Linked DNA regions of Homo sapiens. The protein of the gene in region 6 purifies or fractionates together with the protein of the main gene of each other region. This does not show direct contact. Each region holds a gene or a part of one and is shown on either strand. Other genes may lie near its edges. The genes, in order: GIGYF2, NAV1, KIF1C, DCLK1, SRSF12, NADK and SIPA1L1.

Evidence for each region.
Region 1: the proteins of NADK (region 6) and GIGYF2 purify together in Homo sapiens (affinity purification with mass spectrometry, with the first as the bait; one large-scale study listed by BioGRID). This does not show direct contact.
Region 2: the proteins of NADK (region 6) and NAV1 purify together in Homo sapiens (affinity purification with mass spectrometry, with the first as the bait; one large-scale study listed by BioGRID). This does not show direct contact.
Region 3: the proteins of NADK (region 6) and KIF1C purify together in Homo sapiens (affinity purification with mass spectrometry, with the first as the bait; one large-scale study listed by BioGRID). This does not show direct contact.
Region 4: the proteins of NADK (region 6) and DCLK1 purify together in Homo sapiens (affinity purification with mass spectrometry, with the first as the bait; one large-scale study listed by BioGRID). This does not show direct contact.
Region 5: the proteins of NADK (region 6) and SRSF12 purify together in Homo sapiens (affinity purification with mass spectrometry, with the first as the bait; one large-scale study listed by BioGRID). This does not show direct contact.
Region 7: the proteins of NADK (region 6) and SIPA1L1 purify together in Homo sapiens (affinity purification with mass spectrometry, with the first as the bait; one large-scale study listed by BioGRID). This does not show direct contact.

Annotation. Positions count from the first base shown.
Region 1 is NC_000002.12:232,699,993-232,704,237, reverse strand, and holds part of GIGYF2 (GRB10-interacting GYF protein 2), read right to left. Parts: intron 3,654-4,245; exon of another isoform or gene 3,584-3,653; intron 815-3,583; 5' UTR 749-814; intron 1-748. UniProt on the Homo sapiens protein: Key component of the 4EHP-GYF2 complex, a multiprotein complex that acts as a repressor of translation initiation. In the 4EHP-GYF2 complex, acts as a factor that bridges EIF4E2 to ZFP36/TTP, linking translation repression with mRNA decay.
Region 2 is NC_000001.11:201,824,480-201,827,896, reverse strand, and holds the end of NAV1 (neuron navigator 1), read right to left. Parts: 3' UTR 928-3,417; downstream 1-927. UniProt on the Homo sapiens protein: May be involved in neuronal migration.
Region 3 is NC_000017.11:5,014,565-5,018,809, forward strand, and holds part of KIF1C (kinesin-like protein KIF1C), read left to right. Parts: intron 1-178; coding exon 179-273; intron 274-4,245. UniProt on the Homo sapiens protein: Motor required for the retrograde transport of Golgi vesicles to the endoplasmic reticulum. Has a microtubule plus end-directed motility.
Region 4 is NC_000013.11:36,106,968-36,111,212, reverse strand, and holds part of DCLK1 (serine/threonine-protein kinase DCLK1), read left to right. Parts: intron 1-4,245.
Region 5 is NC_000006.12:89,107,750-89,111,994, forward strand, and holds part of SRSF12 (serine/arginine-rich splicing factor 12), read right to left. Parts: intron 1-4,245. UniProt on the Homo sapiens protein: Splicing factor that seems to antagonize SR proteins in pre-mRNA splicing regulation.
Region 6 is NC_000001.11:1,757,240-1,761,484, forward strand, and holds part of NADK (NAD kinase), read right to left. Parts: intron 2,664-4,245; coding exon of another isoform or gene 2,495-2,663; intron 2,005-2,494; coding exon of another isoform or gene 1,862-2,004; intron 1,404-1,861; exon of another isoform or gene 1,293-1,403; coding exon of another isoform or gene 1,126-1,292; intron 896-1,125; exon of another isoform or gene 819-895; intron 72-818; coding exon 1-71.
Region 7 is NC_000014.9:71,666,207-71,670,451, reverse strand, and holds part of SIPA1L1 (signal-induced proliferation-associated 1-like protein 1), read right to left. Parts: intron 1-4,245.

The DNA.
Region 1 (4,245 bases), on a different chromosome or scaffold from region 6:
AGAAGCTTCTCTGGGAGTCCACCTAGAATAGTCACCATTCTACCTTCTCTGAGACCTGCCCCCACCATTAGGAGTGGGACCTTTCAGCTAACTGTGCTTGCACTTCTAGACTCCAACCCTATGTCCATAACTAATGTGATCAATGACAAAGAACCGAACCAAGTTCAACCAGCCAAATTTCCCCCTCCCAAGAATATGAAATGTGAACACTGTGCTAGCATCAATTGGCTACTGGCACTAGAGCCTAAGTTCATATGTGGCTCCAAGAATTAAGTGGCCATTTGCTACCATGAGTTTGTGTTTGTTAAAGCAGAAAAGGCCAGACTGCACAAATACAATTAAAGCAGGACAAAAAGAGACAAGAGAGGACACTGGCCAGCTGGTAAAAAAGTGCTATCTACAAGTACTATGGCTCCTGAAAGCTTCCCAGTTTCTGGTTCATGTCCCTCATGAAGTCAACTGCTCTTTGGTTCTTTACAGTACTCCTGCCTCCAAAGCATTCCTCCTTGTTTCTTGCCAACAAAAAATTATTATGACAGTTTAAGACACAAATTCACACCAGGGTCAATGCAGAAAGGGTATGTTACTCTTACTGTTCATAAAGGATCTGACAGGCACCAGGGAAGAAGTTTCTTCTCACTACCCAAAACCTCAGGAGAAATAATAGGGCAAAAATAACTAAAACCTAAAAGCAGAAATTACCTATTTGCAAAAGCCCTCAGGCTTTGTGCTTCCCTTCCACACTTACCTGTTCAAAAATTCTGCTGGTTCACAGCAGGAGATTTGAGCAGACTTTGTTCAGATCCTTTTAACGCTGTAAATAATAAAAATATTAATATAAATCACCCAGCAACCTCTTAGGAAACTTTAAAAGTACAATCTTTCATCATAAATATACTTTGCAGAAAATGGCTTCCAAACCTGGTTAAAAGAGTAGATCACCTGGTGTATTTATAAACTAGGTTCCCTAACATCTAGAAAGTCTCAGTAGTTCTACAGTGGGACTGAAAACTATATTTTTTAACAAAAGTCCTAAGTGATTCTTATGAAGCTGTCAAATGAAGACCACCATGGGGTTTCAGGGAAGTCATTATTTGGGGTTTTCATTCAAAACCCCATTATAGGGACTTGGTATTAACTTTTAAAACCTACTGCCAGGCACAGTGGGTCATGCCTGTAATCCTAACACTTTGGAAGGCCAAGGAAGGTGATCGATTGAGCCCACGAATTCAAGACCAGCCTGGGCAACATGGCAAAACCCCACCTCTACAAAAATTAGCCAGGCATGGTGGCACATGCCTGTAGTCCCAGCTACTCGGGAAGCTGAGGTAGGAGGATCACCTGAGCCCAGGGAGGTCAAAGCTGCAGTGAGCTGCAACTGTACCACTGCACTCCAGCCTGGGTGACAGAGTGAGACCTTATCTCAAAAAATATATATCTAACAGAAAAACAAAAGCCGCATCACAGCAATATGCATCCTATGCAAATAATCACTGAGCCCTCAGAAATATGATCATTGCCAAAATGTCCAGGGAGCAAAGCTCCAAGTGTGCAAAATCACAACCTGCCTTTAATGCTCTGTTGGGGCAATATCTTAAAAATCCATAAGTTGGTGATATTCCAAGTGACAAGAGTGAATTGAAGTATAGTATCTTCAAATAGTTTCTTGGCTAAAATCAAATGATGCTTTACTGCTACTAACAAGTCAAAGAACAATAATTAACAATTAAAGTTGACAATTTCATTAACTACAGGAAAGCAACTAGATAGAGACAGATAGAGTTTTTTTTCTTTTTTTGGAGACAGAGTCTCGTTCTGTTGCCCAGGCTGGAGTGCAGTGGCACGATCTGGGCTCAAGGCAACCTCCGCCTCCCAGGTTCAAGCAAGTCTCCTGCCTCAGCCTCCCGAGAAGCTAGGATTACAAGTGTGCACCACCATGCCCAGCTAATTTTTGTATTTTTAGTAGACACAGGGTTTTGCCATGTTGGCCAGGCTGGTCTCAAATTCCTGACTTCAAGTGATCCACCCACCTCAGCCTCCCAGAGTGCTGGGATTACAGGCATGAGCCACTGCACCCGGCCAGTTATTTTCAAAATGGGATCTTGCTTTGTTCCCTCAGCTGGAGTGTAGTGGTACAATCAGAGCTCACTGTAGCCTTGACCTCCTGGGCTCAGCCTCCTGAGTAGCTGTGACTACAGGCGTGCACCACCATACTCAGCTAATTTTTTAAAAATCTTTTTTAGAGATGGGGGTCTCTCTCTGTTGCCCCGGCTGGTCTCATGGCTCAAGTGATCCTCCTACCTCAGCCTCCCAAAGTGCCGGGATTATAGGTGTAAACTACTGCACCCAGCCAAAGAAGAGTTTATTATCCATTTCTTCTTCCCTTTCCTCCTGCCCTTAAAAAATTACACAGTTCAGTGGGTAAAGTTGGATGACCTTTGGACATTATAACATGGCTACTTTTTTTGCAAAATTAAATCAGAAGTGGATGTGACTTTCTCAAATTGCATTCTTGGTGGGGCACAGTGGCTCATGCCTATAATCTCAACACTTTGGGAAGCTGAAGCGGGAGTATCACTTGAGACCAGAGGTTTAAGACCAGCCTAGGCAACATAGTGAGACCCCATCTCTACAAAAAATATTGGCCAGATGTGGTGGCATGGACCTATAATCCCAGTTACTTAGGAGGCTGAGGTGGGAGGATGGCTTGAGCCTGGGAGATTGAGGTTACAGTCAGTGGTGATTGCACCGCTGCCCTCCAGCCTAGGTGACAGAGCAAGACCCTGTCTTTTTTGGAGAAAGTCTTGCTCTATCACCTAGGCTGGAGCGCAGCGGTGCAATCACGGCTCACTGCAACCCCAAACCCCCAGGAGACAGGGTCTTGCTCTATCACAGGCTGTAGTGAGCCAAGATCAGGCCGCTGCACTGTAGCCTGAGCAACACAGTGAGATTCCATCTCAAATAATAATAATAATTAAGCTTAATGAAACCCCATAGTTAACAAGAAAATATAAAATTGTGTTCCTTATTTACTTAAAGTAGGGAAGTATGTAATACTTTGAAATACCTTTATAAAATGAAGTTTGGTCAATTAAGAGAACATTCTTTGTTTTTCAAACCTCTTTCTGCTTTCAACCTCACACAAAACTATAGGCAATTCAATAAAGGTATCACTTTACATTCCTACATAATTAATTTAGTATATTTCTCATTCATCTGAGAGCATGAATAAAATGTAAAAACAATATTTGGTCAAGAAACACTGCAATGCTAACTATAAGCAAGTTTATACATGAAATAAAAATCTCTAGTTTTAAAGAGATGTAATTTTTCAAAGTATTAAAAATGAATGGAAACTCTAGGACTTTTTTATCTTATTTTAAACTTCTATTTCTTTTTCATTTTATATATTTTTCCTTTTATTCTTAAATACTCTCCCATGCAAAAACCATAGGACTTTATCACCACAAAACCCTAGTGGGAATCAAGCAGTGAAAAAAAGCTTGAGTTCAGACTGTTACAACAATGACCAAACAATATGCCATGGTAATTTAAACTGAAGGAAAATGGACATTTAACTTGCCTCTAAGAGACCTGGGTTAACACCAACATAGGCTGTAGATTCAACCTAATGAGACTGGTCCCACTATAATCTATAAGAAATAGAATAAAACAGAAAGTATGGGAAATTTAATCAGCAGGAGCTAATGGAGAACTGCAAACAAAGTCAAAATTTGAAAATGGCACAAGTCAAAGATCCTACAGAAGGGCAATCATAAAAGCGACAGTAGTAATCTTTTTACCCAAAAAGGTTCTCCCAGATAGCAATCACTATCAACAGTGTCATCTTCCAATGTGAAGGTCAACAAAAAGAGAAGAGACAATATGGAGTATTAAAATGCAGAGTCATGAAAACAAATGAGCTGATATGACATCAAAGACATAATTTGGAAATGTCATTTCAAAAACACAATAGAAAAACAAGAGGAAGAAAGGCAATTAGTTAAAACACTACCTCATCACTACCATCACTATGCCTCCCTTTTAGCCAAGGAGTTGCATTCACACACTGACCTTGTAATTTCCATCTTCTCATGATTTTGAGGCAAACCTACTCCAAAGTGTTTTTCACATATGCATCTCACCAGCAAAAGCATTTCAAAACCAAAATATTAAAATTCCTCAGCTGAACTAAAATGAAAGAGGACATTTATGAAAGCTCAGTAAAAAGAATATGGAGATAAA
Region 2 (3,417 bases), about 200 Mb from region 6:
AAATTAAAAAAAATGCAGGGCAGAGTGGCAAGCATGTAGTGGCAGAAAGGATAGAATGTTGTTGGAATGGGAGGTTCTAGAGCAAACAGAAACAGGTATTTTTTAGTGAGCTGTTCAGGTTATGTGCCTTCAAAATGGTTCCCAGGAACCCTTATCAAGTGAGTTCATTCTCACATGGCAAAGGAAACGAGTTACCAAATCCTAGGTCACTTCCAAGACTGTGGATGCTGGACTGGTAACAATCAGGGATTAAGTCATCTCATCAGAAGATTACTTCAAAAGAAAGCTTTCTCAATTATTTATTTTTGAGTTGGGGGGGTCTTGCTATGTTGCCCAGGCTGGACAGGTGATCCTCCCACCTCAGCATCCAGAGTAGCTAGAACTACAGGTACACCCACTGCAACTGGCTTGAAGAGAGTTCTCAACACACTTGTCACCTCCCATGTTAAGAGGGCAGAGATGAGTTATGTTACTACAATTTCATAGGGAAAAGATTGCTTCTTGGACCCTTCAATTTTGCAATGGGGAATAGTAAGCCTATTTACTTTCTTGAAGTGGCCAAAAGAAGTTGAACTTGATTACAACAGCTTCTAATAGGTCAGTTCACTTTTACCCCAAGAAGAAAATTTAGCAAAGTCAAGAGGGTGGTATGTTTTCAAACACTGCAGCAACCCAGATGGAGGACTCCGGAGCCTTGATGTTTGGGCTGGATGTTTTGAGATCCGGTGAAGGATTCTATGTCCATAATGTGCGAGCAGGGGTTCCTCCCACCCCCAACCATGGGAGTCAGGAGACTCTAGCTTAGGGTTTCAGGTTACTTCTGGGTTAGGCAAATGACCACAAGCAGTCTGGCCTTGCCAATCAAGGAATGGGCCACAAGATAAATGGAGACAGAAACCAGGCAGAGAGGGAGCTAGAGAACCAGTGGACAGTACAGGAGATAACTTTATTGAAACGCAAATGGCATTGAACAGATGAATCTTGCTGGGAGGAGACATGCCAGATGGACAGAGGGCCCAGATTGGGGGTGGCCTCAGTGGTGATGAAGGAAGGCCTCTTCAGCTGGCTCTGGCATGAATTTTATTTTTAAATAATTTGTTATTTAAAATGAATTACTGAGGGGACAGCCCGGCTCTCTCTTCATGATTGTTACCGCAACTATATACAACAGTTTGCTTTCCAGATTCAATTTCGCTTTTTCTACATTAGATATAAAAGGGGGTAGGTTGAAAGAGGGGAGGGTCAAATAAAAAACATAAACACACAGACATACACATATCCTGGTTTGGGATTTTGCACCCAATAACTTAAAAAAAAAGTGTTGCAAAAACTTCTGCCCACTCTCCACCTGAGGAACACCATGCATTTGAGAAACACGGACTCTGTCACATAAACGGTGCTGCCTAAAACAGTATGGAGGCGGGGAAGGAAGCTAGCAGGGGTTGGAATTCATTTTGAAAAAAGATTGTTTTGTTAGAAAAAGCAAAAACAAAAAAGCATTAGAAAGTGGGAGCCACTGCACAGCAGTAGCCTAGAGACTGGCTGCGATATGGTAGCTCTGCCTTGATATCATCTTCGTGTCTTCAGGCATAGAGAAATGGCAGAGGAGCAGTAAGACCCCACAGGAGATGGCCAGAGGATCCACCATCAGCCTTCTGGGGACTGAGGAGGTGATCTTAGTGGAATTATTTTATACTCACCTCCCCCGGGGTTTAGTCCTTCCTCCAAACACTTAGTTCCAGGGCGCAGGAGACCTGTTACTAGCACTGTATGTTTCTTTGTGCTTTACCCAAGTTCTCATACAGGGAAAATTGACAAACTTGAAACAAAACCAGTTCTAAACAGCCTCATCTCCTCCATGGCCCAATCAGCTATTTTATGAGTTTGTAAAGATATGAAGCTTTTTTCAGATATTTTTTAAAAAGGATCTTATTTGGCAGGGTGCTGTGGCTCACGCCTGTAATCCCAGCACTTTGGGAGGCTGTGGCAGGTGAATCACCTGAGGTCAGGAGCTCCAGCACAGCCTGGCCAACAAGGCAAAACTCCGTATCTACTAAAAATACAAAAATTAGCTGGGCGTGATGGCGCACGTCTGTAATCCCAGCTACTCAGGAGGCTGAGACAGGAGAATCGCTTGAACCTGGGAGGCGGAGGTTGCAGTGAGCCGAGATCGTGCCACTGCACACCAGCCTGGGTGACAAAGCGAGACTCCTTCTCCAAAACAAACAAACAAACAGAAAACAACAAAAAAAGGATTTTATTCTGTCACCTTGGCTGAGTACTTCTGTATCCAGGTCCTGCTGTGGGGAAAAGAGAGGAGGAGCACAAGGACTGAAGTGCCCAGGTCTGTGTCTTCATTATGCAAGACTCTCCTATGAGCTGAGTGGAGTGTGGATAAGGGGCCTTCCTGGGATACTGGAGCCCTACACTGTTAGCTGCCATACAGAAGGAGGTTCTGGCCTGGTTCTCAGGCCCAGCAGTGCCCTTTATAACTCAAATAAAGGAGAGGGATGTTGCTGGGAGAACACGTTGTCATGGAAATACAAATTAGATTTTTTTTTTTTTTTTTACTTTTTCCATCCTATTACATAATCAGCTCGGAATAGATACAAATAATTCGGCAGAAGAGCAATCTGGAAGAGACCTCCAACTGCTTTTCCTTGTTGAAGCCCCTTTGTGTGCCAGGTAGTAATTTCCAAGGCATAAGGTTTTTCTCTGAAGGTTGTATTCAACTAGGAAAGACACAAACATTCTCCTAACTTCCACCCAAAAGCACACATACCTTTCTTTGTTAAAATCATAAATGGAAAAACAGAAACACAAGGAAGCATGAGAAAGGTGACTTTGAAATTAATGTTAAAGTCTGAATGACAACCTAGAACCTTCTTATTTTGGGCCCCAAAGCCTCTCAGTGTGGGAACTCCAATACTATAAAGGGCTTTCCCTTTAAAACAGTTGAATTTAGTGTGCATCAGAATCACCAGGAGGGCTTATTAAAACGTGGATTGCCGGGTCCTCTCATTAGAGTTTCTGATTCAGCAGATCTGGGATGGGATTGAGAATTTTCGTTTCTAACAAGTTCCCAAAGGCTGCTGATGCTGCTGGTCTTGTGCCATACTTTGCGAACCACTGCTTTAAGGAATGAGAAACCAGGGGATCACTCACTTACTTCCATGACCACCCTTGTCACAGAAAATTCTCCATGGTATAATCATGAAGAAGAATGACCAAACCATCAAACTGGAAGGATCTAGTATACACAGGTTGAATTTTCAACCGTCTTCGTGTCCCTGCAGCTTTGGCATTTTGATAGGTATCCTCCCTTCAAGGCTACATCTTCTGGGTTACTACCACCTTTCCCAGGATCTGTGGCCGGCAGTGCTCACTTCCAGGGCTAGGCTGAGCAGACATGCACCC
Region 3 (4,245 bases), on a different chromosome or scaffold from region 6:
CACTTCACTGCCCACTGAATGAACCCGGGCAAGCCATTTCACCTCCCTGAGCCTCTGCTTCCTCATCTGTGAAATGGGAATAATTGGCTTGGTTCATTGAGTTGGATAAACTGGTGTTCAGGAGGGGCTTGGTTAAAGTCTGGCACATGCTCACAAACGTTGGCCATTGCTTCCCCAGGGTCGGCCAAGTAGATATGGACATCAAGCTGACCGGACAGTTCATTCGGGAGCAACACTGTCTGTTCCGGAGCATCCCCCAGCCAGATGGAGAAGGTAATGGCTGAGGGGGTGAGAGAGGCCAGACAGGGAGAGAGGCCCCATGTTCCACCCCACACACTGAACTCAGAGGTCTGGGTTGGGCACCAGGGAGTGCAGCCATATAAAGAGGGGATGTGGCCTTGTCCTCAGAGGGGCTTGGGGCTCATGGGTATGAATGGAGGAATACCACAGGCCCAGCCCTCTGCACCCACCCTGAGAAGACAGACTACTGTGTGGTCAGGCACTGGCGAGGGTTCTAAGGTAGAAATGGGACACTAGTGAGCCAGAGTGTGGGATTTTGCTGAAGAGAAGATCCTGCCCTTCTTGATCTTGTTCACCACAACTAGCACTCTGATCCTTTTTAAACAAAAACCTGTATTTGAATATCGGAACTTGTCCCTGTGGAAAACCTGCCTCTATCCAGCTATGACTGCCGAGATTTCTTTTTCTTTTTCTTTTTCTTTTTCTTTTTTTTTTGAGACGGAGTGTTCGCTCTTGTCGCCCAGGCTGGAGTGCAATGGCGCGATCTGGGCTCACTGCAGCCTCAACCTCCCGGGTTCAAGCAATTCTCCTGCCTCAGCCTCCCGAGTAGCCGGGATTACAAGCATGTGCCACCATGCCTGGCTAATTTTGTGTTTTTAGTAGAGACGGGGTTTCTCCCATGTTGGTCAGGCTGGTCTCGAACTCCTGACCTCAGGTGATCCGCCTGCCTCGGCCTTCCGAAGTGCTGGGATTACAGGCGTGAGCCACTGCCCCCAGCTTTTTTTTTTTTTTTTTTTTTTTTTTATCATTTGAGACGGAGTCTCACTGTTTCCCCCAGGCTGGAGTGCAGTGGCATGATCTTGGCTCACTGCAGCCCCCACCTCCCAGGTTCAAGTGATTCTCTTGCCTCAACCCCGAGTAGCTGGGATTACAGGCACGCGCCACCACACCAGGCTAATTTTTGTATTTTTAGTAGAGACGGGGTTTCACCATGTTGGTCAGACTGGTCTTGAACTCCTGATCTCATGTGATCCGCCCACCTTGGCCTCCCAAAGCACTGGGATTACAGGCGTGAGCCACTGCACCTGCTGAGGTGTATTTTTGAGGCCACCAGTTTGTTTTAGTTCTAACACTTAAAAAAAAATAGAATGATTTGGGTTCACATAAGCTCAAGCAAAGTCTCTGTGAAAATGAGTTGGGCAGGGAGGAAGGACGTGGTACACATGTGCTGTCTGTCAGCTTGGACCTGGTGTGTGTGTTGTGCCTCAGAGACCTAGGAGTGCTTGGCCTAACACCTTCCAGGGGACAAGGGACCTGGGGTGTGTATGGTCAGCACTTTTTTTTTTTTTTTGAGATGGAGTCTCGCTGTGTCGTCCAGGCTGGAGTGCAGTGGTGCGATCTCGACTCACTGCAACCTCTGCCTCCCGGGTTCAAGTAATTCTCCTGCCTCAGCCTCCCGAGTAGCTGGGACTACAGGTGTGCGCCACCACACCCGGCTAATTTTGTATTTTTAGTAGAAACAGGGTTTCTCCAACTCCCAACCTCAGGTGATCCTCCTGCCTTGACCTCCCAAGGTGCTGGGATTACAGGCTTGAGCCACCACACCCAGCCCTAATTTTTGTATTTTTAGTAGAGACAGGGTTTCACCATGTTGGTCAGGCTAGTCTTGAACTCCTGACCTTGTGATCCACCTGCCTCGGCCTCCCAAAGTGCCAGGATTACAGGCGTGAGCCACCGCACCCGGCCAGCACATTTTAAAAAATAACAAAAGACGCTATCATGTGCGTCTTACAGTGAGGTTTAAGACATACCTCTTGGGGCTGGTGGGGTGGCTCATGCCTGTAATCTTAGCACTTTGGGAGGCCGAGGTGGGTGGATCACTTGAGGTCAGGAGTTTGAAACCAGCCTGGCCAACATGGTGGAACCCCGTCTCTACTAAAAGTACAAAAAAATTAGCTGGGCATGGTGGCGAACGCTTGTAATCCCAGCTACTTAGGAGGCTGAGACAGGAGAATTGCTTGAACCTGGGAAGTGGAGGTTTCAGTGAGCTGAGATTGCGCCACTGCACTCCAGCCTGGGTGACAGAGTGAGACTGTTTCAAAAAAAAAAAAAAAAAGACATGCCTCTTCGGTTTCCATATGGTTCAGGGTCAGCCAATCAAGGCAGTTGTTCTGGTCTGGTTCAAGTCCTCAGTGACAGCAAATGCTTCCGGCATTTTGGGTTGAAAGCTGTTGAATCAGTTCAGCCCAGTGAGTTATTGCCAAGTTCCTGTTCTGCGGCAACCTCAAGCCATTTGCTGGGGGAGATATGAAAGCCATACAGGCCACCAAAAATACACCTCAGCAGAGCCAGCCCATGGGCAAGGAGCTACAGTGCGGAGAGATGACACCCGTGTGCAAGACTGACATAGGTCACAGTAAAGGCAGCCAATGATTCTGTGTTGCCAAGGGTGGGGATTGTGATGGTTTAGTCCCTGTGGGCCTTGGTTCTTTTTTTTTTTTTTTTTTTTTTTTGAGACGGAGTCTCGCTCTGTCGCCCAGGCTCGAGTGCAGTGGCGCGATCTCGGCTCACTGCAAGCTCTGCCTCCCGGGTTCACGCCATTCTCCTGCCTCAGTCTCCTGAGTAGCTGGGACTACAGGCGCCCCCCCACCACCACACCCGGCTCATTTTTTTGTATTTTTAGTAGAGACGGGGTTTCGCCGTGTTAGCCAGGATGGTCTCAATCTCCTGACCTCATGATCCACCCGCCTCGGCCTCCCAAAGTGCTGGGATTATAGGCGTGAGCCACGCGCCCAGCCTGGGCCTCAGTTCTTAACAGCAGATTTAAGACCTGGCCAGAAACAGGCAGAGAGGACGGGGGCAGCACAGACAGGTATGGATGTAGAAGAATGGTTTTTACTGACCATCTACTCTGTGCGTCCGCATTTTCTCACACAGCTCACAGGTGAGAGAACTGAGGCTCTCGGGGGTTAGGTGATTTGCAAAAGATGACACAAAATGGCAGAACTGGATTCAGACACAGGATGGCAGGCACCAGGGGCTGTGCTGTGAGCTCTGCCCTAGACTGTCAGATTATCATGGGTTCAGGGTAAGGCTGCCTGGGCCAAGCTGGAGCAGTCTTCTCACCCAGCCCCACTTTCCCTGCATAACACGTATTCCCTCCTTTTTTATTTTCATTTTCATTTTTATTTTTTGAGACAGGGTCTTGCCCTGTCACCCAGGCTAGAGTGCAGTGGCATGATCATGGTTCACTGTAGCCTCAACCTCCCGGGTTAAAGTGATCCCCCCACCTCAGCCTCCTGAGTAGCTGGGACTACAGACCTGTGCCACCACACCTGGCTAATTTTTGTACTTTTCGTACAGACAGGGTTTTACTGTGTTGCCCAGGCTGGTCTCAAAGTCCTGAGCTCAAGCAGTCCACCTGCCTCGGCCTCCCAAAGTGCTGGGATTACAGGCGTGAGCCACTGTGCCCAACCCTATTCCCTTTAGAGAGGACTTTAGATTATCTGCTTTTAAAAATATTAATAGAATTAAATGCCTTTTTCCCCCCCTCTTCTTTTAGTTTTAATAAATGGCATCTGGCCAGGCACAGTGGCTCATGCCTGTGATTCCAGCACTTTGGGAGGCCAAGGCGGGCGGATCACCTGAGGTCAGGCGGGTGGATCACCTGAGGTCAGGAGTTGGAGACCAGCCTGACCAACATGGAGAAACCCCGTCTCTACTAAAAATACAAAATTAGCCAGGTGTGGTGGTGCATGCCTGTAATCCCAGCTACTCAGGAGGCTGAGGCAGGAGAATTGCTTGAACCCAGGAGGAGAGGTTGCAGTGAGCTGAGATCGCACCATTGCACTCCAGCCTCCAACAAGAGTTTCACTCCAACAAGAGTGAAACTCCATCTCAAAAAAAAAAAAGAAAAAAGAAAAGCCATCCATCACGATTAAATGACTTTAGATTATCTTGTTTATTGTCTGTCTTACCAGACAGAAGTAAGCTCTATGAGAGCAG
Region 4 (4,245 bases), on a different chromosome or scaffold from region 6:
TTTATTGTCTTGGGTGGACTATTTTTGTACAGGTTTGACAGAACCTTGATGGTGAGTTGAATTAAAAAACATTGATTAGGGCCGGGCACGGTGGCTCACGCCTGTAATCCCAGCACTTTGGGAGGCCGAGGCAGGCGGATCACGAGGTCAGGAGATCGAGACCATCCTGGCTAACAGGGTGAAACCCCGTCTCTACTCAAAATAAAAAAAAAAAATTACCTGGGTGTGGTGGTGGGCGCCTGTAGTCCCAGCTACTCAGGGGGCTGAGGCAGGAGAATGGCGTGAACCCGGGAGGCGGAGCTTGCAGTGAGCCGAGATCGCACCACTGCACTCCAGCCTGGGTGACAGAACAAGATTCCGTCTCAAAAAAAAAAAAAAAAAAAAATTGATTATATGTACAGCATGATTTGCTAGTCATTCAGAGTTTACCAGATTATACTTTTGAGCACACTATCTTTGCTGGAAGTTTAGTTTTTAATGTGGTGCTATCAAAATGCTTTTTTAAAAAATTTTTTTTGAGGGATAATTTGAATGATTTGTATGTATAGTAAATATTAAAATTAAAATGATCCATGAATTAAAAGATTGATCTTATTAAATAGAAGACTCCTCCAAGTTCTTAAAGGCTAGCGCATTCAAACTTTCTGAATTAGAAATAGATGCTAATCCTAGAAAGAGTATTAGTCATGAAAGAATACTTCCCTTAGGGATCCATTCAGATGCTCTAAATTATAAAATTCATTAGGAAAGAAGGAATATGTGCCAGTTGTTCATTTGTATTTACCATCTTTTGCTTGGCTTATAACCCTTGCCCTAAGTAATATGCGGATAAGGATTCTAATGGATGAGATTCTCTAATGAATGAGACTTAGTCTTCTATATTTAAGAGTCTGTAGCCTAAATGTCGTAAATCTATCAATGACCAGAAAGTTCATGCTGGCTTGTGAATTATAGTAGCAATAAGATGGCAAACTTCACCTTTACACATTTTGTAAGCCCTTCACTGGCTCCATTTCTAATGAGTTATTCAAACATCTTGTAGTTCTGAATTTTCATATATTGAATTTTCTCAAGATGGGAGTTCATCTATTTTCATAAATATTTACCTATTCAAATAAATATTTTTATAAAGTGTCTCATTAGAGCAAAGAATACATATGGATAAATGTTCCCTCTCCCTGCTGCACTTCAGAATTTTGGGAGTTCCAAAATGCTACTCTGAATCTAAAAATCGGCTTTAATGACTTTAGCTAAAATTTGCCATCAGCTGATTATTTAATTTTGTTTATTTCAGGAATAAATCCCTACAATAGGTATGATGTTCTCAGTTGTTTTCTTCCTTACTGAATTTGTCTAGAATTAATATTTGATAATGGCTAGTTTACTGTGGTTTACATGTAAATAATCCAAAGTCATGGGACGGAATCCGAGGTTTAATGTCAAAAAACCAGGATTCAAGTCTTGGCTCAGCCGTAGATTCCTTATGTTTTTAGCAAAACACTTAACTGAGCTTCATTATCCTCATCAGTGAAACACAGATAAAATGATTACCTGTGTTTTATAGAGTGCTGTGGGTCAACTATGATGATACATGCAATAGCAATTTTGAACTATAATGATGATAGCTTTATTGAGCATTGTTCAAAGTGCTTTGCATGTATTAGCATGCTTAATCCTCATAACAACTTGCTTATTATCCCCATTTAACAGATTAGAACACTAAGGCACAGAACTCGTTAAAAACATGCACAAGACCACACAGCTACGATTTAAACTGGTCTTGCTCCAGAGCTTGTGCTGGTAACCACTGTACCACTTTAGATTATGTTAAGGCACCAAACTGATGTAAATGTATTGAGAAAGAATTGTCAAGGGAGTAATTTGTCCAAAGAATATCATCTGAAACATTTCTGCTCTGTCCTTTTTTTCCCTGCAGTCATTCTGCTGACTGTTGTACTCAACTGTTGTTTTGTCAAGCGTTCAGTTTGCTGCTGTGGCATTTCCCCTAGTGTTGGCATGTTCTCTTCATAGCAGGATCAGTGAAAAGCTGCAGAGGAATTGGATGATAAAGTGGAAAGAACATAAAGACTTATTCGTTGGGTTCCCAGTGAGAACAAAGATGCTTCCTCATGGACCCCAGGAGTCTTTAGAATCTTTTTGGCTCAAAAGAGAAATCTGTCCCATAAGCAGTTTGTTAGAGTAGAATTTTTGACAACCCTGGCAGAGACTGAGGCTTGATAAGCCTCTGAGAATAAATCAGTTTCCTCCACGCTGTCCTGTGGAATAACGCTTGGCCATAGTGGGGTGGCACCTGCACTGCTACCATCTTGGCCTGCCTGTGGTGGCATCGGGGTCCATATGCTGCCAACAAGATGCCACCCTAAGATTACTTGTCCCACCTTTTTAAAAAATAGTTTAACTGAACCCTCACATCAACTCCATAAACAATATGGGAATTCCAGTGCCCAGTAAAGAATTTCATGTTTTTGGGTTGAGGAAATAGAATTGTTTAAAAAATGAATTGCTTGAGTGCTTTGAGTAAATGCGTAGAGAGGAAGATGGTTTTGTAGATTGCCTTGGGGCAGCCTACAGATGTATCCATGGCATGAAAACTGTTGACGCTGGGATTTTGGACAATGGAACCATGAAAGCCGGAGCCTGCTGTTTAATATCTTACCCAGAGGAGACGGACACCGGAGGGCACAGACCACATGCTGTTCTCACTTGTTTCTACCACCACTCCTTGCTCAGTTGCCTCTCGGGTTTGTGTTAGCCCTAAGCAAAGAGTTCATTGAACAGTACTTTTTTTGATGTTTTTAGACTGAGATAAGGAAATAAACGTTTTGGAAATGCTGCACAATCTAGAAAAGATTTTGCAGGAAGCTGCAATTGGCCAAGATGACCGTTGTGGTTCATAAGCAGCCTATGTGTGAGCAAACCCTTTCTAATGATTTCAACTCCATTCTTTATTCAGGGGCACTGAAGCTTCAGCAAATGGTTGCCCCGACCTTCCTCCTCTTCCTTGCAACTTTCAGGGTGACTGCTCACCAGGTCATCAGTCCTTTTGCTGGCATGGCTGGCAGTTCAAGGAAGCACTTACCATGCCTTAATTTCAGTGATGCATTTTTTTTTTTTTTAAATCTGGGCCTTGGTTAAAGACCTCCAAAGAAGAAAAAGGGACATTTTCTAGCTAACAGTTAAAATCATGTCCCCTGAACCCATGTCCAAGGGGAGGATCTGCAGGATCTTAGAGTCTGAGAGTCTCTTCCTCTTGCCCAAGTCCAAGCTCTGGATGTTGGAACTTTGCTGTGGGTTATTCACTTAACCTGCCAAGCAGTTACTCCCAGAGGCCATTTGGAGTATAACTATTTTTTAAGTGCTTAAAATAAGACTAAAAGTTACCAGATTTGCTACAAAGATACCCTTGCATATCTCCTGACTCCTTTTATGGAAAAGCAAATCTGGCTTTCTTGAGCTGCTAAATCTGTGGTTCTTGAATCCGTCCTTAGAAACATAGAACAGCTAGTGCCTAAGTAGGTGATTTATACTATAAAGAACATAGATAGGGCACTTCCCAATGATCCCCTTCCCACTGAAATACAGCAATGACAAACTGGATTGCTCTTTAAGTAGAAAATAAATGCACATCCCTATCTTATCTACTTTTCAACATCAAAGATCTGTACAACATTGCAGCATGCTTTAGTGAAGAGAAAAAAACCCAGAGATGTTATATTTTTATCTTATAGACATTTCACATAGGCCATGTACTTTATAAAATCTACCACTGCTAGTGAGTCGAGATCGCGCCACTGCACTCCAGCCTGGGCGACAGAGTGAGACCCCGTCTCAAAAAAAAAAAAAAAAAAAAAAAAAATCTACCACTGCTAGCATGCTAGAGTGAGCAAACAATTTATTGTTTTCCCAATATGGAAAACATTAGGAATTACTCAGCTGAAGTATGGGTAGCCATAAACTGATTTCGATGGTAAGCCATGAGAAAGCATCATAACTGCCATTTTGAGGACATCCCAGTAGCTGTTGATAAATTAATCCATCATTACATCTTCTCTGTATCTTTTGATCATGAATCCTCATTGCCTGTTATAAAGCTCAAAAGATGCTTGTAAATGAGTCAATAATTGCCGCCATTTATTTTAGGTGTTTAATATAGGAGTTTACTTGATTACAGGAAATGGTAATGATGATTAATAGGAATCTATTAATCAGATATCACAAAATGGT
Region 5 (4,245 bases), on a different chromosome or scaffold from region 6:
AAAACACGAAAAAAACCTCCCTAGATTCTCAGACCTCTCTTGGAGGTTCTGATTCAGGAAGTATGGATTAGAGGCTGGAAATCTGTATCTTTACAAGCACTCCAGGTGGTTGTTATGCTTAATTTCCAGAAACACTGACCCAGCATATCCACCTCTGAAAGTTATTATAAGACCTAATAAGTAATTGTTTCACTAAGAACACATTCATTTTGCTTCACTTTAATTTCATGTTTATGTTAATCTTGTTTTCAGATAGCAAGAATTAGATTCTAAAGAAGTCCTAAAATTATTTATCAGGCTTTAAAGAAAAATGGATGTTTTAATATTAAACATAAAACAAAGTAACTACTGTATTCCCAAATCTGACAGGTATTTCGAGCCTGCTTATGTGCCTTCTAGTGCGATTAGGTGCTTCAGAAGGGGTACCAAAAAAAAGAAACAGCATGATATTCATCTTCATGGAGCTACAATTTAACTGAAGAGACAAAATATTTAGCAATAATAGCTAACAGTTACAGTGCATTTATATGTTAGCCAGTGTTCACCTTACAACCACTTAATTCTTACAATTTCCCTGTGGTTATTTACAGATGATACAGACAGATTATGGGTGATACAGACAGAATTTCAGGTTATTTACAGGTAATACAGGCAGATTACAGGTGATACAGACAGAGTAACCTATCTAAGCTCACTGAGCCAGCAAGTGACAAAGCTAGAAATCAAATTTTCAGTCTCATACTGGTCCATCTTAACCACTACACCCTACTGCTTCATGGTGCTATCATAGGGATTCAGCATCAAGCTATGATCATAAAATGTGGCTCGGGAGAAATAAAGATTCAAAGATGACTAAGAAGCTTCTAGCTTGGACAAATGGAAAAAAGATGGTGTCAGTGACAAAAATTAGAAGAGAGCTAGATCAAGGAGGAAGAAAAGAGGCAAAAGAAGCAACTTTCAGGTTTAGAAATGCAGTATTTGAGGTGATGGTAGAACACTGATAAGAGTTCTATAAGCAACAGAAAATTGTGATTATATGCATATTAATTAGTGTGTATTAATATAATTATTAGAAGCCAGTGACTAAGGCTAGAGATGGGGATTTAGAAATTACATATAAGATTCAACAAAAATTGACTAAGCATCTACTTTTTGCCAGTAGCTCAGTCAACATTATGACATACTTTATTTCATTTAACACTCATAGAACATGTTTTACTATTAGTTTCTGAGGACAGTGACAATGTCTTTTTTCTTTTACTTATTCAGAATTAAGCAAATACTTATTGAGCACCTACCATGTGCCAGGCTCTAGGAATATAATGAGAAACAAGAAAAACACAATTCCTGCTCCCACAGACCATAGACTGGCATAAAGATTCTCAACCTCTCCTGAGTACTGTAATCATCTGTGAAGGGATGTTACAGACAGAGGCACCCCAACCCGATGCATTAATTCTGGACCTAATTAGTGTTTTCCATAGTGAGGCCCAGTTATGTTTAATTTTTTCAGGACTTCACAGGCAATTCTGAGACTGAAGGTTAAGAATCACTGCTAAAGCAGGTGTCTTCACCAGCATATCTCTGTACCTAATGTAGCTGCTGGGCACACAGTAGGTACTCAATATATATTTGCCTATCAATGAAAAAAGAATACATTACTGTTACCATTTAAGAGTTAAGGAGACTGAGGGTGAGAGAAGTTACCTTGCCCAGAGATCTACACAGCCAGTAGTAGAGCTAGGATTCAAATGAAGGTCTTCTGAGACAACCAATCCCATCAACCAAATGTAGTGGCTAAGAGGAAAGGGATCATAGATAATATAAAAGAGGAGGCTGCAGCACTGTGTGCCACAGAGGTCTGGAGTCTGGAAGCCAAGGGTGATGGGAGTCAGATGGAACAGGTCTTTTCAAAAGAGCCAATTCCCATTCACTGTCTCCACTCCCTCACCTGTTAGCTGTTGTTTTATTTTTGCACTTTTGGTATGATCTACTTCAATATTCAAAAAAGTACAGAGAATAATAAACACCCATGTATCTACCAACAAGATTTATTTTCTGGCCGGGCGCGGTGGCTCACGCTTGTAATCCCAGCACTTTGGGAGGCCGAGGTGGGCGGATTACGAGGTCAGGAGATCGAGACCATCTTGGCTAAGAGGGTGAAACCCCATCTCTACTAAAAATACAAAAAATTAACTGGGCGTGGTGGCGGGCGCCTGTAGTCCCAGCTACTCAGGAGGCTGAGGCAGGAGAATGGTGTGAACCCAGGAGGCGGAGCTTGCAGTGAGCCAAGATCATGCCACTGCACTCCAGCCTGGGCAACAGAGCAAGACTCTGTCTCAAAAAAAAAAAATTATTTTCTCCGTATTTGACATACTTGCCATAATTTTCAGTATTTTTAAAGAAATATTATATCCTTCTGTTACCAATGGAGGGTCTTGCCTATGAGTCCTCCAGGTTCTTGGCATTTTTAACAAAGAATTGGACAAAATGCACAAAGCAATGAAAAAATGAAGCAATGAAAGCACAGATTTATTGAAATGAAAAGATACTCCACAGAGTGGGAGCAGGCTCAAGCAAGCCACTCAAGTGCATTGGTTACAGAATTTTCTAGGGTTTAAATACCCTCTAAGGTTTCCCACTGGTTACTCGGTTACACCCTATGTAAATGAAGACTTGGCCCACCACCAGTCTGGTGGAGGGAGGCGACCAATTAGAGGCTGAAGCAAAGCTACAAAGTTACACATGAAGACTTGGCCTGGGACCAGTCTGATTGGTTGTAGGAGGGGACCAGTCAGAGGTACTTTCCATTTTTTATCTGTAATACAGTGCAAAGGGAGTAGCCTCTGATCCTTTTGTTACTTGGGTGTAGAGAGGTGGAGTTCTCCTTTTGATTCAGTTCTAGGAAGTCACTGTGAATCGGCCTTAGGTTCCCTGCCTCCAGACCCTATTCTCCTGCTTCAGTATCACTAGCAAAGAAATTGGTAGGCTGGAGGGTATGCCTACCTTAGCTTCACTACATGTTCTTCAGAGTGGCCCAACCAACTTACATTTCCAAAAACATGTGTTAGAATTCCCACTGTTGCCCAGGCATGGTGGCTGATACCTGCAATACCAGCAGTTTGGGAGGCCAAGGTGGGAGGACTACTTGAGCCCAGGAGTTCAAGATCAGCCTGAGCAACATAGTGAGACCCCCATCTCTACAAAAAATAAAAAAAAATTAGCTGGGCGTGGTGTCTATAATCCCAGCTACTTAGGAGGCTGAGGAAGAAGAATCACTTGAGCCCAGGAGTTTGAGACTGCACTGAGCTATGATCATGCTACTGCACTCCAGTCTGGGAAGACAGGGTGAGACTTGTCTTTTTTTTTTTTTTTTGGAGATGGAATCTTGCTTTGTCACCCAGACTGGAGTACTGTGGCACAATCTCGGGTCACTGCAGCCTCCACTTCCCAGGTTCAAGCTATTCTCGTGCCTCAACCTCCCAAGTAGCTGGGATTACAGGCATGTGCCAGCACACCTTGTTTATTCTATTATTAGTAGAGATGGGGTTTTGTTATGCTAGCTTTTAAAATTCCTCTTGAAAATATGTTGTAGTTTTTGGTGCAAAGGTTCTGCACATTTTTTGTTAACTGTTTTCCTAAGTAAGTATGCCTTTTGATGCTATGGTAAATGCAACTGTTTTTTAAAATTGTCATTGTTTTCAATTGTTTGCTGTTAATATATAGAAATAAAGTTTTTGTAAATTTACCTTATATCCTCATAACTTACTAAACTTATTAGTTCTAGCAGTTTTTTTGTTCATTCCCTAGTATTTTCTATGTAAGCAAATATGTCACCTAAGAATGGTTACTTTTATCTTTCCAATTTTTGTATTTTATATCTTTTTTCTTGCCTTGTTGCACTGGTTAGGACCTGCAATAAAACGTTGGCGGTTGTGAGTGGCAATCTTTTCTTTTTCCTGATTTTATAAGGAAAGCATTGTCTTTCATCATTAAGTATGATGTTAGCTATGTTTTTTATAGCTGACATTTATTAGGTTAAGAAGTTCTCTTCTATTCCTAGTTTGCTCACACGTTTTGTTGTGTTTTTGTTTTTGGAGACAGGGTCTCAGGTCTCACTCTGTCACCTAGACTGGAGTTCCATTAATACACTATATTTAACATTAAAAAATTATTCCTTTATGCAGTACAAAAGCAAAGATATTATTTTTCCTAAGCTACATCTTGTTTCACCAGTGAAAAGAA
Region 6 (4,245 bases):
TCTTGATGACAAGGACGCTCTTTGGGGACTTGTTCCACGTCAGCCGCTGGCTCGCGGGGTCCTGAATGTGCCTTTAGGGGAGGAGAAAAGAGTTCACACCAGCTGCGATCTCCCTCTTGCGGAAAAGGTGTATGACTTAGAAAATAAAAAAAAAAATCTTTAAAAAGGTGTTTTCACCTCCCAGGGAAACGTGCTCGGTGGCCACGGGCTCACAGGGCCTAGGGTCGCGCCACAGAGACAGGGTCAGGGGTCAGTAGGGTCCGGAGTGACCACCTCTCACCTGCTTGGCCCATCACACGCAGGCTCAGGCCCACAACCCCCACCCGGGCACCACGCTGACCCAAGTGCACGCACCACAGCCCTTCCCAGCCCCCGGCCACTTGCCTGCCTGGCTCCTCAGTGACGCTGGTGGGGCAGAAATGACCACGAAAGCCCATGGCTGGGCCACTCTTTGCTTGATGCCCTCCTCAGGCCCCCACGAAAACCCAAACCAGTTGACATGGTGACTCTGTCCCTAGGATCCTCTGCACACAGTTTCTGGCCCCACGGGAGCCCAGGACCCCTCAAGGACCCGCTTCCCCCCCTGCACACAGCTCACTACCTCCCTGCATGAACGGACTTTAACCTCACTCACTCTCACAGTAAAAATCACAGGTTTAAAAGTCCGTGGCAGCCCTGACACAGCCACCCGCGCTTTGCTGGCTCTGACCCCGACCACTGTGCCCGGTGTTTCTCCACAGGCAGGGCCCACCCCGGTGGGATTCCCATTACCACGTTAGTCACAGAAAACATCCCAGCCCAGAACCGGGAACACACACCACGGAGCCTGCTCCTGTTCCCAGAAGCCAAGGGAGGGCGCAGCGGGGCTGGCCACCGTCGTCAGCGCTCACCGCCTATCCTCAGCCCCAAAGGACAAGTTCTTATACCACCGCGCCAGCCAGCTAGTTCCAAGTTGCCCAATCGAGAAAGCTGCTGCCTGCCATGCCTCTTCCCAGCAGTGACTTCCCCAGGAGTGTGACCGTCCCACTAACACCCCCAGAACCACAACACAGACGCCGATGGCAGCCACAGGGCCACAGACCTTAGCCCATCGCTTGTGACCTTCGGAAGCTGGTCAGCACTCACCCTGTGCAGGCATTACTGGGAGGCGTGGGGTCACTCATGCCATCCCCTATGAGCTCAGCACCTGCCGGGTCACACATGTGGCTCGCGAGGTAGCCCCTGCCTGCTGGGAGCCGGCCAGTGTGTCCACAGCATCCAGGCCACGCTTGGCGAACACGCGGCCGCCCCATCGGTATGGTCCTGACTGTGCGCCCACACTAGAAGCCTAAGCTCTTCATACTCAAAACTCAAAGCAAAACACAATTGTGATGAGACTTGGTAAAGTTGTTGTAAAAGCAACTAAGTCAAAAGAGCTTCCTACACTTATAAAAATCAAACAAAACAAAACAGTTTCCTCATTGGTCACATGGTCCTCCTGCCTAATCCCTTCTGAAAAAAAGTCCTCAGTTCAGCAGCAAAGAGGCCACACTTCAGCTCCCTGCTCCTAACTGAGCCGGGTGGGACCAAGCCCTCTGTTCCCGTGGCCTCAGACCTGGCCAAGTACCCAGCCTCCAGCCTCGCCCCAGCACTGCGCCAGCCACCGCTCTGGCCCGCGGAACCGGCTGGGCCCCAGGGAAGGCACCCTCAGGCCACAGTCAGGTGGAAGGGCGTTCCCTGCCTCCTAGCCCGCTGCGTCACTCTGCTTGGCTCCGGCCCAAGGGCGTGCAGGTGGCTCACGGTCCTCCGGCCTGGTCAGCCAGCAAAGCCCCCGCCCTGCACACGGCTCCCCCTGCTCTCCCCGCCAACAGTCACCACTGACCCAGTGGCCTGGCCTACACCCATTCCAGCCCTGAGGCTCAGCTGAGCCCAGCCAGAGCCACCAGCAGCGGCGTCGTACACCGGCCCAGGCACCCACCGCTGTGTGTGACCACAAACCAGCGCCTCGACCTCTTCCTGGGTCACCTGCAAAGCAGGACACCAGCCCTTGCAGGCACGCACGGCTGTGGGTACTGCACGGAGAGGGCAGGGGGTGGCGTGAAGCTTGCAGGCACACACGGCTGTGGGTACTGCACGGAGAGGGCAGGGGGTGGCGTGAAGCCAGCATGGCCACAGCCTGGCCCGCCTGGCCAGCTCCTACTGAGACTGTCTCACACATGGGTGGCCACGCACACTGTGACACACGGGCACTCACGCACCTCCACAACACAGGCCCACCAATTCCCTGGACAACAAAACAGGAAGCGGGTGCCCTCCTCACCAGGCGCCCCCACAGGGTCTTGCTCTGGACTATCAGGGAAGACGGAAGTTCAGATGCATGGGAAGCCCTGCCCCTCCACAGCGGGGATGGGAAGCGGGAGGTTATGATCCCAGAGACACAGAGCCCAGAGGGGGCGTGCTCCCATGGGGGTGCCGAGAAAGCTGCATGCCCCTCAAGGCTGCCCCACAAACCCACCGCTTCCTCCTGCGGGGCTGTCTGGCCTCGGGCAGCTCGGGGACCACTGAGTACGCCCTGGTCTGAGGGCTGAGGCAGAACATGCACCTGTCCGGTGACCCCGCCCTGGCCCGAGTGACTGACGGCTGGTGAAGGCAGCAGCTGAGATGCGAGTGACAAAGGAGTGGCTCTGCCAGGACCAGGAAGTGCAGGGAGGGCACCAGGCAGCGGGGGAGAGGCCCGGTGGGGTGCCAGGGACACAGCAAGCACAGGATGGCGGGACAGAGCCACGGCGGGGCCGGGAGGGCAGTGGAGCACTCTGGGTCACCCACGTGGCTGCTGTGCAGGGAAGGGATGGTGAGGCCGCGGCGAGTGGTCAGGAGTCCACACAGCGGAGGGCAGCCGGGCAATAGTGCAGGGGAGCTGCTTGGATATTTTGGGATCAAAGTGACAGAATCTGCAGATGGACTGGATGAGGGAAAGCAAACAGGGGTCGGGCCCCCCGCCTCAGGCATTTGGCAGCAGTGACAGGTCACAGACACTCCGGGAACCAGTGGCACTGAAAGGGCTGGGCCTCAAAAGCACAAGTGCGAGTCACTTCCATCCTAAGGGGCTCCGTCAGCGTCTGGAGCAGCAAGGCCAACCCCCGTCCTGCCTGGGACGCACGCTGCCGCGGGGCCCACACTTTGCAGAGCAGCTCCTCGGATGACTCCCCCGTGGCTCCTGGGACCTGAACTTCGGTGACAGCCCAGGGCTGGGGCCTCCGTCCCTGCTGTGCGCCCCCAGCCTCCATGGCACCGGTGCCTGTCAGCAAAGGGCCATGCAGTGGCCGCCCCCGTATCACACGGCCGCATTGCGCTTTCTGGTCAACAGTCCCCAGCAGCCTGCGCGCTGGAACACTCGGCCCTTCCGCATGGTCCTCCCTTGCAGAAAGTGAAGCATCCATGACTCCGTGAAGGAGGAGGCCCTGAAGAGAGCCCGTTCTGCACAGAGGAAGAGAGCCCGTTCTGCACAGAGGCCTGAGAGCTGAGGCACCAGTCCCAGAAGCAAAGGCTTCTCTGGGGAAGAGGCAATGAGGATGTCTACCAGGTGCAGAATACGACTCTCAGGGCTGGCTGGGAGCTCACTTTTTTCTCTGGAGACAGTCTTGCTCTGTCGCCCAGGCGGAATGCACTTTGATAATCACAGCTCCCTGCAATCTCAACCTCCCAGGTTCAGGTGATCCTCCCGCCCCAGCCTCCTTGGCAACTGGGACTACAGGTGTGTGCAACGATGCCTGCTAATTTTTGTATTTTTCTGAGTCTGAGTCTTGCTCTGTCGCCCAGGCTGGAGTGCAATGGTGCGATCTTCGGCTTACTGCAACATCTGCCTCCCGGGTTCAAGCAGTTCTCTGTCTCAGCCTCCCAAGTAGCTGGGATTATAGGCACGCGCCACCATGCTTGGCTAATTTTTGTACTTTTAGTAGAGATGGGGTTTCACCATATTGGCCAGGCTGGTCTTGAACTCCTGACCTCGTGATCCGCCCCCCTTGGCCTCCCAAAGTGCTGGGATTACAGGTGTGAGCCACCGCAGCTGACCAATTTTTGTGTTTTTTGTAGGGATGGGCTTTCACCATGTTGCCCGGGCTGGTCTCAAACTCCTGGGCCCAAGTGATCTGCCTGCTTCGGACTCCCACAGTGCTGGGACTGCAGGTGTGAGCCACTGCGCCCAGCCTGGATTATAATTCTTTACACATAAAACACAGATATCAGATCGATCACTGTTGCGTTTTT
Region 7 (4,245 bases), on a different chromosome or scaffold from region 6:
CTATTCCTTGGTCCTTTTGGTATTTTATTCTGATAATCTATTTCTAAGAAAAATATTTTCCTTCTCCCATTCCTTTAAGCAAGATTGATATAAGAAAGCCTGTTCCAGTCATTTCTTCTGACTATATATTCCTAAAATTGGGCCTAAGAAAAGGATCATATGAACATTTGTAATAACTTATTATTTTTAACCTCAAAAGGAAAAAAAGTAAGTTTCTCCTAAAACAACAAAGGAAGTTGTTGATATAGAAATAGAGAGGTTGAGTGTTTTATATCATTTCCCAAGATTTTAGTAAAGTTTGACATGACTGGAAATGATTCTAACACATCGAAGATCGCTCTTTCCAAATTAAAAGTGAACAAATTATGCAATTATACTTAGTATTAGGGAAACAATAAAAAAATCGGTTTCTTCTGAACTCTTGGAATAGAAATGGCATCATCAGAGAGTATGCATCTTTCAAATAAAATTGAAGAGCTCTGTTTCACTTTTTTTTCTTTAGGAAGGGTTTGCTTTAAGATATTCAGCTTTGTTTTTCAAGAAATAGTTATTTCTTGTGAAAATAAGAAAAATAAAAATCAGCAACCTCAGGAGGCAAATTATATTTCTGGTGGAATGGAAAAGCTACATGCTCAGAAGATGCCATGGGATGGCCTATCTGTTGGTTTTACAAGTGTATTTTTAAAAGACTACCTAGTTCACTTCATGACAAAGAACAGTGGCAACCAACACTCCATTTTCTAACTGGAGGAGAGAATTCAGAGACTTCCATATGGCTTAATTATACCAATATGTATTAGGAAGGCAATTTTTCTTGTCTATTGTGAACTGCCTGACTTGAACGCTGACAGCTGTATAATTTTAATTTGATCGTGTTATTTTTCTCTTAAAGTCAAGCAAAAGATGCTGAAATCCAGGTTTGCTAGATTTTTCTAAGTGGAATCCTGTAAGAATCCAGAAATATTTAATATCTTTCACTTTAAAATTGGCAACTTCTCATCTGCTATTTCACTCAAATTGTTATTCCTTCTCAGAAAATATCTGTGATTTTATTTTAAATAAGGAGAGCAAAATGTTTAGCAGGGGGTGTGATTTTAAGCACCCTCCATCTACTTGCCCCTTAAACTAACTGGCTTTCTGCAGATCCATTTATTAATTGATAGAACTTTAGACAAACATACACTGAAAACCTACCAATAATTAGAAACAGCTATAATGAACTGTGAGGAAAAGAACTGAATCCTTACCATATAATTTTCAATGATTCACTGTGGTAGGGAGGTAAATGATACAGGCACTGAAATCAGCTTCGCATAGTCAGAAATAGAATCCTTACAGAAGATGAGGAAGATGATACCCTGGAATGCTCTTTTCAAATAAATGATTTTGTTTTGGATAAATCAAACTGGCAAGGTTTCTACAAGGTTAAAAGCTCATTAATTTAGATGCCACAAATTCTGAACTCTTGATAATAAGGCCTGGTTTAAGCTAAACAGAATATTTAGAAAAAAAGCCTTTCTAGAATCTCAGTTTGCTGCATGTAGTTACTTAAGATATATTAATTATAAACGGTTCTTGGTATTTTTAAAAGCAGATTCCAAAGGGCCTCTGCTTGGCTGTATGTATATTAGCCTAGTTGGCAATTCTGTGTCTTCTTGGAAATAATACATGCTTTAAAATCATAGCCATGCTTTATTTACCCAGCATTGTTGAGGACTGGAATGTTCTACTCAGCAGGGTTATCTAGATGACAGACAGACAGAGCTAGAGGCTAAAACAGTGATGGAAAGTTATCACAGGAAGGGAACTTAACAGAACTCAATGTTCCTCAAATTCTTTCAGTAAAATCTTTGGGTTTCATTTGAAAATTCACCTCGATTTTACATTCTACTGAAAAATATTTGTGTTCATTTTCATATAAAAATATCTTCTCACTCCAAAATCTTTGGGTACACTGAGCGACCAGGAAGGTGTCTTGTTTGTATTCTGTGGTTTGACATCTTCATGAACCTCCGGTTGAGCAGCTGGTACAAATTCTTCACTTCTCCAGGAACAGATACAGAGAAGTAAAAGGATTTACCCAGATTTGTTAGAGAGAGCCAGGATTGGAATGTAAGCTTCTGGACAGCCAAGAGAGTGCTCCACGACAAGCCCACACTTACTCCCTCTGAGGAAGTGCTTTCAAACCTCCTACTCCTGAGGTGCCTGCTAAAAGGGACCATTCACATGGGTCACATGGCCTAAGAGATGATGAGGCTATTTCTACTCGATATGGGCCATGTAACATTGGTTGGCATCAAAGAGCTTGAATGAAATAACAAGTGTTGATACCCAAAGCCAACTTCAAGCTGACACATGAAAATGTTCCAAAGACTTTTTTTTTTTTTGAGACGGAGTCTCACTCTGTTGCCCAGGCTGGAGTGCAGTGGCGCGATCTCGGCTCACTGCAACCTCTGCCTCCTGGGTTCAAGCAATTCTCCTGCCTCAGCCTCCCCAGAAGCTGGAACTACAGGGGCCCGCCATCTCGCCTGGCTAATTTTTTGTATTTTTAGTAGAGACAGGGTTTCACTGTGTTAGCCAGGATGGTCTCGATCTCCTGACTTCATGATCCGCCTGCCTCAGCCTTCCAAATTGCTGGGATTACAGGCATGAGCCAACACGCCCGGCCTGTTTCAAAGACTTCTGAACAGTTTAGTGGATAAAAATTGAGAAATATAAGACATTTGAACTTTGGAAGCACAATGGAAAAACAGCAATAATCAACAATCCCCAGCCCAAAATTTAAAAGGAAGGTGATACAGAAAACATCAAATGGGAGAAGGAAGTTTCCTCTTCTTGGAGCCTGAATCAGATTACTGGCCAGGGCAGCTTCCAAGAAAGCAGATCTGGGCAAAGGACAGGAAAGATCAAACACGTGCCAATCATTCTCTCGATTTCTAATAGTATTGATCCACCAGTCACTGAGTACCTACTATGTGCTAGGCACTTTGCCTTTGCTGAGGATCAAGGCTGAAGATGTCCCGGGCTCAGCCCTCCAGAAACTCAAAGTCTGGTGGGAGCCACAGCCAGTGATTTGAGTCTCCTACTTGCGAAGTACAGGGTGCTACTGGTAGCACTTAGGAAAGGCACTTTAGTCCTGGGAGGTCCAGGGAGCCTTCTCAGAAAAAAGAAAAGCAGGAATTCATCAGATGGAGGGAAAGGGGAATGTGTGAGAGGAGCAGCATGTGCAGAGCGGAGGGGCAGAGCATGCTGTTCTGGGGAGTGGTGAGTAGCTCCAAAGGAGTGAGGTAGGCATGGGGTGCAGACTGGTAGATGAGACTGAGAGACAGGAGGCCAAACCTGAAGCCCCCATGCAGTAAGCTATGCTTGCAAGTCTGAACTTTCCTCTAAATGCTTTTAAGCACAATAAATGACATAATCAGATTCTTGTCTTAGAAAGGTCAGCTGCAGTGGACAATAGGGATGCTGATTAATTGAGGCTTGAAATAGACCTTCTGAAAGAAATTTCTATCACTTGACCTACTTGGATTTTTCTTCTTCTCAGCTGAAGCTTGCAAATTCTTTTTTTTTTTTTTTTTTTTTTACAGAGAGGAAAGAGGATGAACACAGACATTTAATGGACATGCATCACGCTTCCTCCCTGCCTATGCTAGACATTTTACTTAATAGGATTTTAAGTGGATGTCAAGCAACTTCCCACTGCACTGTTTAACAATTTGGTCTAATTCCAAGTGCTTTTTGTACTATATCATACAGATTCCTTTCAACAGTTATTACATTTTAATTACCGGGTATGGAAACCTCTCTGAGAGGAGTAACACATATTTCTACCTTCCTAAACATACCTACTGACCACAGTTTAATATTTGTTTTGAACAATCAGGGTCCTTGTTATGACTACTTATTACTATTTTAGTTTTAAAATGAATAACAACTCTTTTATTTCATCAAATAGTGTGTCAATGTTCCAATTTACAATTGTTTAGGATGTCCTAGGATTTTCTTTATAGTCTTTTTGTCTAAATTGGGATCCAAATAGGATCCACACATTGCAATTAATTTAGCTTTAAAAAATGTTTTATTCTGTAGATTCCCCTCCACTTCCTCACTATTTCTTGCAACTTACTTGTTGAAGAAATGGGGCATTGTGTCTGCAGAGTTATTCAGGGTCTGAATTTTGTCAACTACAAACATGTTCCTCTGTCTTTTGTATTTCCTATAAATTGGCTTTTCTGGAAGCTTGAT